4 separate regions of the Homo sapiens genome follow, and regions 1, 2 and 3 are each reported to be linked to region 4. The links are microRNA targets in miRTarBase. Many come from high-throughput screens and were not tested one by one. Region 4 holds a microRNA gene; each other region holds the end of a gene's coding sequence. Distances are between the middles of the regions.

What was found. Region 4 holds the annotated microRNA hsa-miR-548aa (AAAAACCACAAUUACUUUUGCACCA, at 1,537-1,561, opposite strand). A microRNA usually pairs through its seed, bases 2 to 8, with sites in the 3' UTR of a target mRNA and lowers its output. Matches are read on the target gene's strand: a 7mer-m8 pairs with bases 2 to 8, a 7mer-A1 pairs with bases 2 to 7 and ends in A, and an 8mer does both.
Region 1: miRTarBase lists ANKEF1 as a target of hsa-miR-548aa. Seed matches in the 3' UTR shown: 7mer-m8 at 2,037-2,043 and 7mer-m8 at 1,011-1,017.
Region 2: the mRNA of HNRNPD is a reported target of hsa-miR-548aa. Seed matches in the 3' UTR shown: 7mer-m8 at 986-992 and 7mer-A1 at 405-411.
Region 3: miRTarBase lists FBLN2 as a target of hsa-miR-548aa. Seed matches in the 3' UTR shown: 7mer-m8 at 2,656-2,662.

Annotation. Positions count from the first base shown.
Region 1 is chr20:10,055,314-10,058,396 of GRCh38, reverse strand. It overlaps ANKEF1 (ankyrin repeat and EF-hand domain containing 1), which reads right to left. Exons shown (of 11, transcript NM_022096.6): 11 at 94-2,895. The coding sequence ends at 2,737. The region is part of intron 3 of SNAP25-AS1 (SNAP25 antisense RNA 1); the gene reads left to right. Among named protein-coding and RNA genes, the nearest start is that of ANKEF1, 22 kb to the right of the region's middle.
Region 2 is chr4:82,352,868-82,355,950 of GRCh38, forward strand. HNRNPD (heterogeneous nuclear ribonucleoprotein D) reads right to left here. Exons shown (of 9, transcript NM_031370.3): 8 at 2,437-2,534; 9 at 1-1,287. The coding sequence ends at 2,467. Among named protein-coding and RNA genes, the nearest start is that of HNRNPD, 20 kb to the right of the region's middle.
Region 3 is chr3:13,637,587-13,640,657 of GRCh38, reverse strand. It overlaps FBLN2 (fibulin 2), which reads right to left. Exons shown (of 18, transcript NM_001004019.2): 18 at 2,254-3,071. The coding sequence ends at 2,739. Among named protein-coding and RNA genes, the nearest start is that of LINC00620, 12 kb to the left of the region's middle.
Region 4 is chr4:173,266,683-173,269,765 of GRCh38, reverse strand. MIR548T (microRNA 548t) reads right to left here and starts at 1,606; the gene lies at 1,533-1,606. The region is part of intron 2 of GALNT7 (polypeptide N-acetylgalactosaminyltransferase 7); the gene reads right to left. It overlaps LOC124900812 (a long non-coding RNA gene), which reads left to right. Exons shown (of 3, transcript XR_007058367.1): 2 at 1-3,083.

The DNA of each region.
Region 1 (3,083 bases), not on the chromosome of region 4:
TCCATGTATAAGTTTTGCCTCCCAAAAAACTTAGATACTAATAACTTACTGTTGACCAAAAGCCTTACCCATAGCATAATCAATTAACACGTATTTTGTATGTTATAAATACTGTATTTGTGCAATAAAGTAAGCTTGAGAAAAGACAACAATTGAACTCAACACAATAGCAACAGGAGGTGGCTATGAAATTATTACAGTTGTACAGTATGTACTACAGTTAATTTTATGCAGTTATGATTTATTACTGCAGCTTTACTTTTATTTACATTTCTCTCAACTGCAAATGCAGTTAAAGTTTATATCAGGTATCAACATCATGTGCCTCCTGATATGATGTACTGAGAAGGGTGCAATGACATCTGTAGCACTGCTGCCCCAAAAGCATCACCTGAATCTATTCTTGAAGACATTTAAGACAAACCAAAGTTGAGAGACATTTTACAAGATAAAAGTGGCTTGTGTTCTTCTTATATACTGTCATAAACAAACAAACAAACAAACAAACAAGAAATACAGGTTGTTCTAAACTAAAAGAGACTAAAGAGATGGGGCAAGCGAATGTATTTCATGACCTGGGAGTACAAAGGAAATTATTGGGATAAATAGCAAAATCTGAATAAGGTCTATAGATTAAATAGTTCACTTAAGTGTTAATTTCCTTAGTTTGCCAATGGTAATATTGTTATGCAAAAGAACATCGTGATTTTAGGAAATACACAATGAAATATTTAAAACATCATGTCTTCAACTGACACACAAATATGAAAACATCATGTGAAGAACATCATGTCTTCATCATGTCTTCAACGGACACACAGATAGTTCGGGGACAAAAATTAAACATACATATGCATATATGTAGAGGGAGAAAGAGATAGAGCAAATGTGGTAAGTGGTTAACATTTAGGTAATCTGGGTAAAGGGCATATAAGAATTCTTTGTCAAATTATTGCAACTTTTCCATAAATATGAAATTATGTCAAAACAAAAAGAAAAGAGAGAACAAAAAAACCAACCAAAACCTTACAAAACAGACAAAATTTAGTTGTAATAGCAAATCTTGGGATCCAAATGCAATGCTTGTAAGCAACCCCTGTTCAGGTCTGTCTCCTCCAGAGGGGTGGGCCTGGTTACCTGCTTCATTCTCTCTCTTCCCTTCTCCTCCCTAACTGGCTCCTGTGGAAGGTCCCTCCAAGGTTGGAAAGAGAGGGAGGAGGTTAGAGGAAAGGGGTTTAATCCATACGTGACTGACAGAGCTGTAATCTGCAATTGGTGCCTTCTGGTAAGGCAGATTCTAAAGTGGCTTCTTTCTGTCAATGAGACGTTGGATATTTTTGGAGCTCCTGTTCGGTACCCACTGCATTTCTTGGTGTGAATAATGCCTCAGCTAGCTTTTTACTGCAGAGTACACCTCCAGAGATGGTCAGTTTTATGACTCAACTTGGCTAGGTTGTAGCACCCAGTAACTCAATCAAATACTAATCTTAGGTGTTGTGGTGAAGGAATTGTGTACATGCAACCAATATTTACAATTCATTGACTTTATGTAAAGGAGACTGCTTTAGATAATCTAGGTGAAACTGATCCCATCAGTCGCTTTAACAACAGTTGAAATTTTCACAATCGTAATCTGGTTAGGTAAATGGATGCCTTTTATTTTAGGAAAGACATACTGAAGTATTTAGGTGTATGAACAAAACTGAGGTTTCCATGATGAAGAAGAAATTCCACTTGTGGACTTCAGGGACAGCTCCTGCATGTTTCCAGCCTGCACTTCCTGATAGCCTACCCTACAAATTTAGCACTTAACCATCTGGGGCCCAAAATTATGTAAACCAATTATTTGCAATAAATCTCTATCTATCTATCTATCTATCTATCTATCTATCTATCTATCATCTATCTATCTATCTATCATCTATCTATCTATCATCTATATATCTGTCTATCTGCCTTTCTAGCTAGCTAGATACCTAGCTGTCAGGTTGGAGCAAAAGTAATTGCGGTTTTTGCTGCAATTAAAGGTTATGGCAAAAACCACAATTACTTTTGCACCAACCTAATAGCTATCTATCTAGGGCTAGGGCTATCTATCTAGGGCTAGGGCTATCGATCTAGGGCTGTTAAAAGTGTATTCAACCCAAGGTATCTAATACACATAGTTTATAATGGCATGTGAGAAATAAACTCCTTCCTTAAAAGATTAAATATTACTTCTTTTTCCAAAACCTAAATTGTTTCATCAATTTCCACTAGAAATGTATCTTCAATAAGCAGGCTGGGCACAGTAGCTCATGCCTATAATCCCAGCACTTTCGACGGCCAAGTTGGGAGGACTGCCTGAGCTCAAGAGTTCGAGACCAGCTGGGGCAATATAGTGAGACTCTGTCTCTATTTAATAAATAAAAAGGATAATTAAAAAAATAATAAGCATAATGGTGTAGACCTGGTAAATCTTTTGACAGCAACGTTTATAACCCACATGCCATGTATTTCACTACATTCATAAAGGGGCTTGGGGATTTATCCAGAATGACATACCATTCATTTCAAAATAACATACATCTTTTCTCTAGACAGCTAAGAATATTTATAGTTGTTAAAGCAAAAAGAAATTCTTGGTAACAAGTTCTTGGTGTATGGATTGCTTTGGCTTTGATGGAAATATCTACTTTCTCCAAAGATTGGTCCCTGGGCCTCAAAGCATTTACCCCAAGAAATAACTGCTATGACTTAGGTCTTCAAGGCAGCTTCCAGTGCTCGAGCTTTCTCTGTGATGTTCTTCTGAAAAGGCATCATAAAATCGTCGAAGTCCACCTCATGTGTAAACCTCTCTCGCCGTAGTTCCCTCTTCCTGATCAGCTCTGCTGTTGTGGCTTCAGGACTCCAAATCTTAAAAAGAAAAATAGCCATACCCCAGCAGGTATGAGTATGACAGCCAGTAAATATGCTAATATCCAGACAATTTTCAATACACAGTTTTAACTTAAAAATTTGTTTATAGTTTTAACTTAAAACTATTAAATTTACTTTTAGATGTGTTTTAACTTCTTCCCCCCCTCTCATATGACACTAGTGGT
Region 2 (3,083 bases), 91 Mb from region 4:
GATGTAACTCCACAAAAGTAAGAAAGGTATTCCATCACTTCACTACTATAGAACTGTATAATAATACATTTCTCATTTGTTACCTTTCTAATGAACTATTCTGAGCAGTCTGAAGTAACTGACTGCACAGCCTTAGATTACCACTCAGGGTGGAACTCTTAACATTCACTTAAGTAATACCTACAAACGATTTTCCATTCAAGTTGATGGGTATCAATTCCCTGAATGCTAATAACAGAACTCAAGAAGCTTCCAACAAATGACAGGAAAAACAATTCTGACTTAATCCTATAGTTATCACTTAGACTCTTCAGTTTCACTTTCTTAAGAGTGACTCAAAAAGTTCCTTAGGCACACATACTAATAATCACAGTCCTGAAATTTTAAGGCCCTAACCAAAAAAATAAAACCTTTGAGAAATGGAAAATAAAATCATTCAAACAAATAAGCACACACACATAAACACGGTATATATTTCTTTAATCCTCCCTCAACACTTGAATTCATCTATGAAGTCCACCACAGCTCTAAAAATCTCTCTGAACTAGCCGCATTTCTATTATAATTAACAGATTTTAAGTCCTTTTTATTTAATGGAAGCATAAAACATTAACTATCTGTGCAAAGGGGTACTTTTGCACATTTATCCAGATTTGTTCTAAAAAGCACAATACATATTAAGCAAAAACTGGGCATTTGGGAAAATATTCATATAAATCTTAATGGCTACATAAGGAAGTATTATTAAAACAACCAACAAACAAATTGACATTAAGTCATTCCCAATTTGGACAGGGAGGACACATTATGGCAAAAATTAGATTTTGCTAAAAACATTTCAAACTTCACTGCAATTTTAATCATGTCCTCAATTTCGGCAAGCCTGTCTTCCAAACTTATGCTTTTAATAACTTGAATCCATGACAATTTTTCCTATTCTGATGATAAAAGAGCCAATACATTTTTATACAAAAGGATTTATTAAAAAACCAGTAAGACACTACTACATCATGACACTGTCACACTGGGCTTTTAACACAAGACTTGCTCTACAATACTGGGGGAAAGGGCATAAAACACAAATTGATTCTGAAGCATAGCAATTAAGAAATAAAACAATGAAAGCAAATTTCTTTTAATGAGAACTCAGAATTAAACTTCAGAGGGACCCAACGTCATACTTCCATTCAGGGACTTGATACAAAAAATTTAGTTTGAACTGCTATTAGCAGGTGGCAGGAGCCACCTTCAAATGAATCTTCAAATTGGAAAATACTGCTTCACCACCTGGAGACAAAGAAGAAAAAATAGAAGTCACTCTGGGCAGGCTACAACACTTAACAAAAATTTACATAAAACTGAGTTATCCCTATGTTCCACTATATGTAAATACTGTATAACATTAAATGTGTGATATGTTTTATAAATTAAAGCTGAACAGTAGAGTCCATGAGCTGTAAATCCACATGTGCACCACTGGTTTAAGATGTGATATGCTTTTACAAGTATTCTTTAAAATATAAAAAGCTTTAAAGTATTTACCCAAAGAACTCATAAAAAGGTCAATTTGGTAAAAGGACATTTTGACCCAAGAGCATCTAATATTTAAGCTTATTTTATTGGATAAGCATATCTCTTGTCCATCACAAGTTATAGAAAAGTTATATACGACTAAAAGAAAAAGTTATCTACTGTAATTATAGGAAGTTGTCACAACAGGAATTCAGCTCAAGAACTTCTTGCAATTACTGCTACAACGTCTATAAATGGGAAAAGCAAGCATTAAAATAGATTAATAAAATATAAAATTAAGACTGGAAAATCCAGAGACAAGCTGTATCCTTAGAAGAATAAATAGTTAAAATTATTCAGTAAGCTGACGTATTTAACCATTACTGGGCCTGTAAAAAATGCATTAAAATTACATTACAAATAGTTTTTAAAAAGCAAAGAAATAAGTGAAGGCAAAGCTTGAAGTATCCATTTTATTTTATAATGCTGATACAGGATGTTGGAAGAGACCATACCAAACGGCAGCATTCGAGAGCGTGAGCATCTCGTACCCTGTCCGCATTGAGCGGGCCTGTGAGAATCGTGAAGTCAGCGCGACACAGGGCCTGCAATGAAGTTCCCGCTGGCGGGTACAAACAAGGTATAATGTCAGAGTTAGTAGGCAATACTTTTTTGCTGCAATTCCTTAATTTGTACCCATTAGCAGTACTTTACCTGTTAACTTTACTGACTTGTTAATAATAGGACAAAAAGGCAAAAGCTTAAGAGCACCTGTGTTACATATCTTTGAAAGTCACTATGTTATAATATGGTAAGCACTTCTGGGTGCTGTGAAACTCTTAAATTAAGCATTGTTTTATGAACAATATAGATTATAAAAACTACTATTGTAAATGACAAAAAAAAACTATTTTTAGAACATACCTGTTGGGGATAAGTTGCAAATGGAATAATTTAGTATGGTTTGTAGCTATTTTGATGACCACCTCGCCTGGATACCTTCCCATAACCACTCTGCTGGTCTAAAATAAAACAAGTGTTAGAACCAGAACGGTAGTGGTTACATACTAATAATCAGAACAGTACCTAATTTTAAACAATCTCAAAAAATTAAGGGTAGCTTAATTCCCAAGTGTGAAAAATTCACCCTGAGCAATCATTTATCAAATAATTTACCAAATATGTAGTGAATGCATACAATGGCAGGCATTCAGAATGAGCTGATTACTTGACTTATTGTATAAAATGGGAGACAATCCCCTCACCCTTACAGTTTAAAAGTTTTAAGTTTCAAAGGATGGACAGCTGACCCTTTCACAACCACCAGCAAAAAATATCTTAAAATTTAGAACAAATTGTCAACCACAATCAGTGCTTAGTATCTCTGCCCTTCTAAGAAAAGGGCCCCAATCTCACCCAATCCATCTTTGCTGACCTTCTTCTGACTTTAATTAACCTATTATTGTGCAGCAGGCCTAGTCACCTAAGAAAGGATATAACTCCAAGAACTGGTCTAACCAAGGAAGGAAAAGAAAAACCACTTAAAACAATGCAACCAATGCAACCACTCT
Region 3 (3,071 bases), not on the chromosome of region 4:
CTGCAAACCTGAGTGGCCTCACCCTGGGGGACATCTGCTGATCTGATGTGGTGATGGACTAGATAAACTGCTATGACTGAGTGGGACTCCGGTCTTCCTTTTTAGGTGACATCCACCAGACTGCAATATGGTCCTACCTGGCACGGTTGATAAGGTTATAACGTTGATGGTGATGGCAAATGTATTGAAACCCTGAGTTCCAGCCTCCTCAGGATGTAGCAACGATGGAGAATGACACCTGCGGAAGAGCTAGGTGGAGCCAACCCCGGGCTAACGCCTGCACACGGTGGTTCTTTACATGCTTCATAGGCACGGGCAGCCCTGCCACAAGGGAGGAAGCAGGCAACGCTGAAGGAGCTGCCCAGACAAACGTGACTATTCCACTGCGAGAACGCTGGGGCCGGGGCCGGGGGTGGCCTGCAGGGTGAGCTCTCGGCCCCCAGAACGTCCTGGCTGGCACTGGAGTACCAGCGTTTTCAGGGGCTTTGCTGCCTCAGTTCTGACCTCTGCGAGGGACTGGAGACTTAGGGCCAGCCACGCTGACAGCCAGGTGGTCAAGCTCCCAGACACACCTGGACCCCAAAGGTGCCCTGTTCAGCTCTATTCTGTTGTGCTGCATCCTGAGGACACGGGAGCTCCGTGACTGGGCTCTCCTGGACTCTGCTCTAGAATTCATCAATGACTTTAACCTGCTTCCTTTCACCATAAACTGTCTGAGTCATGCAGGTGAATTAATGAGCCTGAGGGTGGATGTAAGGACCCCCAAACCTGTAGCCCATTGCTCAGACGTGAGGGTGGTCCTAGGGATGCCTGAGCTTGTTTCTGGTGTGCAGTTCTTGGTCTGCAGTGAGGGTAGTCTTGTAGGGGCTATTCCCTGAAGCTGCAGTTTGCCAAACTTGCCGGCATGGAATTCTAGAATCACCTTAGAAACTCTAAGGTCCGGAGAGAAGTTGTTCTCCAAGACCCTCCGTATGGATGCGCTGGGTGCCAAGTTCATTTTACTGGCTCGATGGCCTGTGCAGGAAGAACAGCTGGAGCCCCTGTTCACAGGGGAGACCAGTGAGGGGAGGCGAAGTCACTTGCCTGAGGTCCCAGAAGGAGTAACCGGGGCTGGGTAGGAGCAGGAACGGCTGCTGCCAGCCAGGGGTGTCCCTAACCTGCCTGTCCTGTTGAATGGAGCCTGTCACCTACTGGTTCCCGCTGGTGGGGACTGTGCACCACAAAGGTGCCGGATCTAGTTTTTCTGAAAATCAGCAAAATAGAAGGAACAGAGACAGCCCGGACAGGGACAGGGAAGACCTGGCTTCTGCTGCACCCTTGGGGATGGGGGCCGGCGAGGAGCAGGGACAGAGGGCCCCCACCGCAGGCTTCCGGCAAGAGGCTCCCAAACACCTGTCCTTTAGAAGCCTGAGCAAGTCGCCACCTCTTAACACTGAGAGAGTTTGTGTTGAGGAATGAGAACATCTGGCCATCCCGGGCCACGCGCCCAGAAGGCGGCCTTGCTGGAGCCAAGTGTAGGCGCCCCCTTCACACAGGGCATGTGCTGCCCAGCGCGCCCCGACAGGCCTGCTTCCCTCCACCCACAGTGAGAAACACTTTCTACCAAAAGCCAGAGCTAGCGTGCCCACGCATAGGTGCACACGCCCCATGTACTGTGGTTTGGTGAAGCAGTTCTTCTCTTTACAGGGTGTGAAGCACTCATATCTCATCTGCTCTATTCTACGTCATTTTAAAAGTGCTGGCTGCCGCCCCCTATATTTAACTCTAGACCCACGGAGCCCGAGCAGGGTCATCAGAGCTGGGTCCCGACACCTGCTCTGATGCTCGCTGTGGGCTGGGGGCACATCGCTTCCGCTCTCAGGGCCTCAGTTTCCCAGGTTCCTTCAGGCTCCTGCCCAGGTCTACTGCCTGACCTGACAGCTCAGCAACAGGGGCCAGGACAAGTTCTGGACAACATCCAAGTGACAGGCCATCAGTGGAGGTCTTCATGGGGGGAAGGCAGAGGAGGGAGGAGGGAGGAGGAAGGAGGAGGGAAAGCTGAAGTGGTAAAAGCAGAATAAAGAGCCTGGTCAGTGACTGATCACACTGGGGTGCCCTCATCCCAAAGTGAACTTCAGGTTCGGGGCTCGTTGAGAAGGACATCAAGGTCTTCATCAATGAATTGACATGCTGGCCAGGCCATAGAGCCCTGTGACATCTGGACAACGTTGTCAAACTCTGAACACTTTACAAAAGTAAAGGGACCAAGAGGCGTTTTCCTCTGTTACTTTATAACCCTTTCATACTAGTTGAACTTTTTTTTATATAATGTACATGTACTACTTTATAGTTAAACAAAAAACTTTAAAATGATTTTTTAAAAAAGAAAAGAATTAATCACAGTGGAACATGAAATGGAATGTCAACTTTGGGGACGGGTCATCCAGAGGAGTCCAAGAGCCCCAACATGGTCGCGTGTCTCTGGTCCTCAGGTCATCACCCAGCCTCACCCACAGGGCACCCGCCACGGCCGTGGCCCACCGTGCAAGCTTCCACTTGGTGCCTGCGTGGGAACGCACCACCTGCCGTGGAACTTCCTCCTGCGGGGCAGAGGAGGGGTCCAGAAGCCACAGGAGTCAAGTCAGCAAAATTAAGTTAATTTACAAAGTTATAGTAAAAACCACAATAGTGACCCAGTCCCTCCCACGCAGTGTGAGCCCTGGGCTGCGCCACACCCGCAGGTGGCCCGTGCTGGCACCTCACAGGGCAAAGGTGGTGAAGAAGATGTGCATCTTGGCCAGGAAGGTGGTGACGGAGCCCTGCCTCCAGAGCTTCATCTCCACGTCCAGGGCAAAGTCCCGGGGCTCCAGCACGGCCCGCTGCAGGTAGACCACACCCGTGTAGGCATTGAGCCTGCGCGTGCCAAAGTAGCCCTCCTCATTGCCCTTGATGATGTTCAGGGCGATGGTGTCCCCCGTGAAGGCTGGCGCGGGGCCAATGCGGAAGATATGCGCAGGCACCAGGAGGCCCGTCTGGAAGTTGAGCTGGTAGTGCGTGATGCGCGCTGGCGAGTTCTGGCACTCCAGGAAGTC
Region 4 (3,083 bases):
GAAAGAATTTAAATTACTTCTGTTGAGGAGGAGGAGGAGGAGGGAAGATTAAATCTAAAATTATTAAGTATTCCTGAAAAAAGTCAAAGCTAGTTACCAGGATATTAAATAGATTCAATACAGCATCCAACCATTTAGGAAAGGTGATGCACTTGGGGCCTGAGGATATGATACTATCACATTTACGTGGTCATAAGGACCTTTGAAATTCAGATTAGGTCTGCTTATCAGCAGAGACTATTTCAGCACTAAATCTAATAAATATTCCAATCAGTGCAAAAGACCTCCTGTGTTCCATAGCTCATGTCACTAACTGCAGCAGCTTCTGTTGGGTACACCTTGGCATGATTCCAGCTGCCTTCCCAAGCCCATTTTAGCAGTTAGGTATCTATAAAAGGAGGTGGAAGATAAAGTGGGGAGGGGTGGGAAGGAGCAAGGAAAGATGAATTATGGGCGGAACATATAATAATAACTCGGCCACTTTATTTCTATTCCTTAAATGGAAAAACAAAATTTGATGCTTTTTGGTCTTCACATTTCTAAAAGCCATTATCAGATTTCATTTTTGAAATAAATTAACAGACAAAAAATATTTTGTTTTGTTCTGTGCCTCTGTTGTCTGAGTGCCCCTATAATAAGACATGCTTATCTGACAAACATCAGAGGAGCCATGCCCCTCTGAGAAACATCTTCACTGTTACTGAGATTTGGGTTTATTATAATGGGGTACTGGGCATTTTGCCCACTAACTATATAGTAAATATTTCTGTGATTAACCTGAGCCCCATACTAAATATACAAAAATTCAGTGGCTCCTTATTATTTGTGGATTCTACGTCCACAAATGTGGATTGCAATTGGAGATGCCTGATGGGCATGCACACGAGGATGTTCTGTTTCTTGTTTCTGCTCATAGAGTAAACAAGTGTCCGGGTGCGGTGGCTCACGCCTGTAATCCCAGCACTTTGGGAGGCCAAGAAGGGCGGATCAAGAGGTCAGGAGATTGAGACCATCCTGGCTAACACGGTGAAACCCCATCTCTACTAAAAATACAAAAAAAAAAAAAAATTAGCTGGGCGTGGTGGTGGACGCCTGTAGTCCCAGCTACTCGGGAGGCTGAGGCAGGAGAATGGCGTGAACCTGGGAGGCAGAGCTTGCTGTGAGCCAAGATGGCGCCACGCCTGGGCTACAGAGCGAGACTCCATCTCAAAAAAAAAAAAAAAAAAAAAAAAAAACGAGAGAGAAAACAAGTGTCCTATTTGCAGTTTGTTTGGTGCCACAGATTTTCTCATTTTTGTGCTTTTAGTTGGTAATTTTGCTGTTTAAAACAGCCTCCCGAGAATAATGTCAGTGTGCTACCTGGTATCCTAAGCACAAAGATGCTGTGCTGTGTCCTGTGCAGAAAATCCACGTGAGACAAGCTTTGTTTGGGTGCGAGTTACAGTGCTATTGGCCCTGAGTTCAATGTAAACCCATCAACGTTATAGGTAAAATAAAGTGTCTTTAAATAGATACATGCCTAAAACAAGGTTAGGTTGGTGCAAAAGTAATTGTGGTTTTTGTCATTAAAAAATTGCAAAAACCACGATCACTTTTGCACCACCCTAACATTTTTCTTCACTTCTCTTGACGCAAATTATAGATTCAATCACCCAGCACTTACAAGCAAGCATTTCTTTATCTTAGGTTGACCTTAAGAACTTCTTTGTATTTACTAACTTCCTTTAGGACTCCTCCTCTTTTGTAGTAAGACGGCAGGATGAAATACAATGAAGAGGGTACCATATTTTAAAGATAAGGCTGAATACCACACACCTGGCATGATGAGAGGCCTATACAGAAAAAAGAGCTTCTGAAGCTTCTCTATGCCACACAAGGGATGAAGGTGGCCTCCAACAACTGTGACCTCCAACCGGTGGAGCTCATGTGTGATATGCCTTTTATGTCCTTTAGCACATTTGTTACCCACAATAACTTTACAAGCCAAGTATTATTATCCACAATTGCTAGAAGAGGAAACCAAAGCTCCCTAAATGCTCAATATCATGCTCATCACTCTTTCAGCTCTGTATGGGATTCCCAAAGTGAACCTCATGTGTATTTATGAACTTGGCACTCTCGGATACCATGCAGCACCCCTCATTTTCTGTGAGCTCTGCTTGCTGAGGTGAAGACTCTGCTGCAAAGGGGCCCCTGGTCCTGTGAAGCTGGTCCCCCTGCTGTGCCTATTCTAAGGAATGGCCATTGCTGATGACATTTGCTGGTCTGTGCCCAGGCATGGTTTCCTGGCGCTGCAGAAGCCACTGGCTGGTAATCTGCCTATGGGTGTCCACAAACCCTCAAGTACAGAAATTTGCCATCCTTCAGTTTGACAGGCATTTTAATGGAATGCTCTTTCAGTGTATCTCCCTAGCATTCAGGTACGCGTTTCAGGGGCCAGGCTGGAGGGTGATCTAAGTGACAGGCATGGTACAATGGTAAATTTTGCCCATACCCTCAACACTGATCCTCTACTTCTAGGCCATACTAAGGTGGCTTTTAAAAATTAATATATGATAATAGTACCTATTTATGGGATACATGTGATATATGGATACATGCATATAATGGGTAATGATCAAAGCAGGGTATTTAGGATATGCACCACCTCAAACATTTATCATTTCTTTGTGTTGGGAACATCCCAAATATTCTTTTCTAGCCCTTTTGAAATACACAATACATTGTTGTTAACTATGGTCACCTGCTGTCCTATTGACCATTAGAACTTATTCCTTCCAGCTAACTGTATGTTTATAGCCATTAGCCAACCCCTCTTTATCCCACATCCCAGCCCTCCACACACACACACACACACACACACACACACACACACACACACACACACACACACACACCCTTCCCAGCCTCAGGTAGCCGTCATTATACTCTCTACCTCCATGAGATCAAATTTTTTAGCTTCCACGTGAGTGAGAACATGCAATACTTGTCTTTCGGTGCCTGGCTTATTTTTAACATAATGTCCCCCATGCTCATCCATGTTGCCGAAAATGGCAGGATTTTATTATTTTTATATCTGTTCT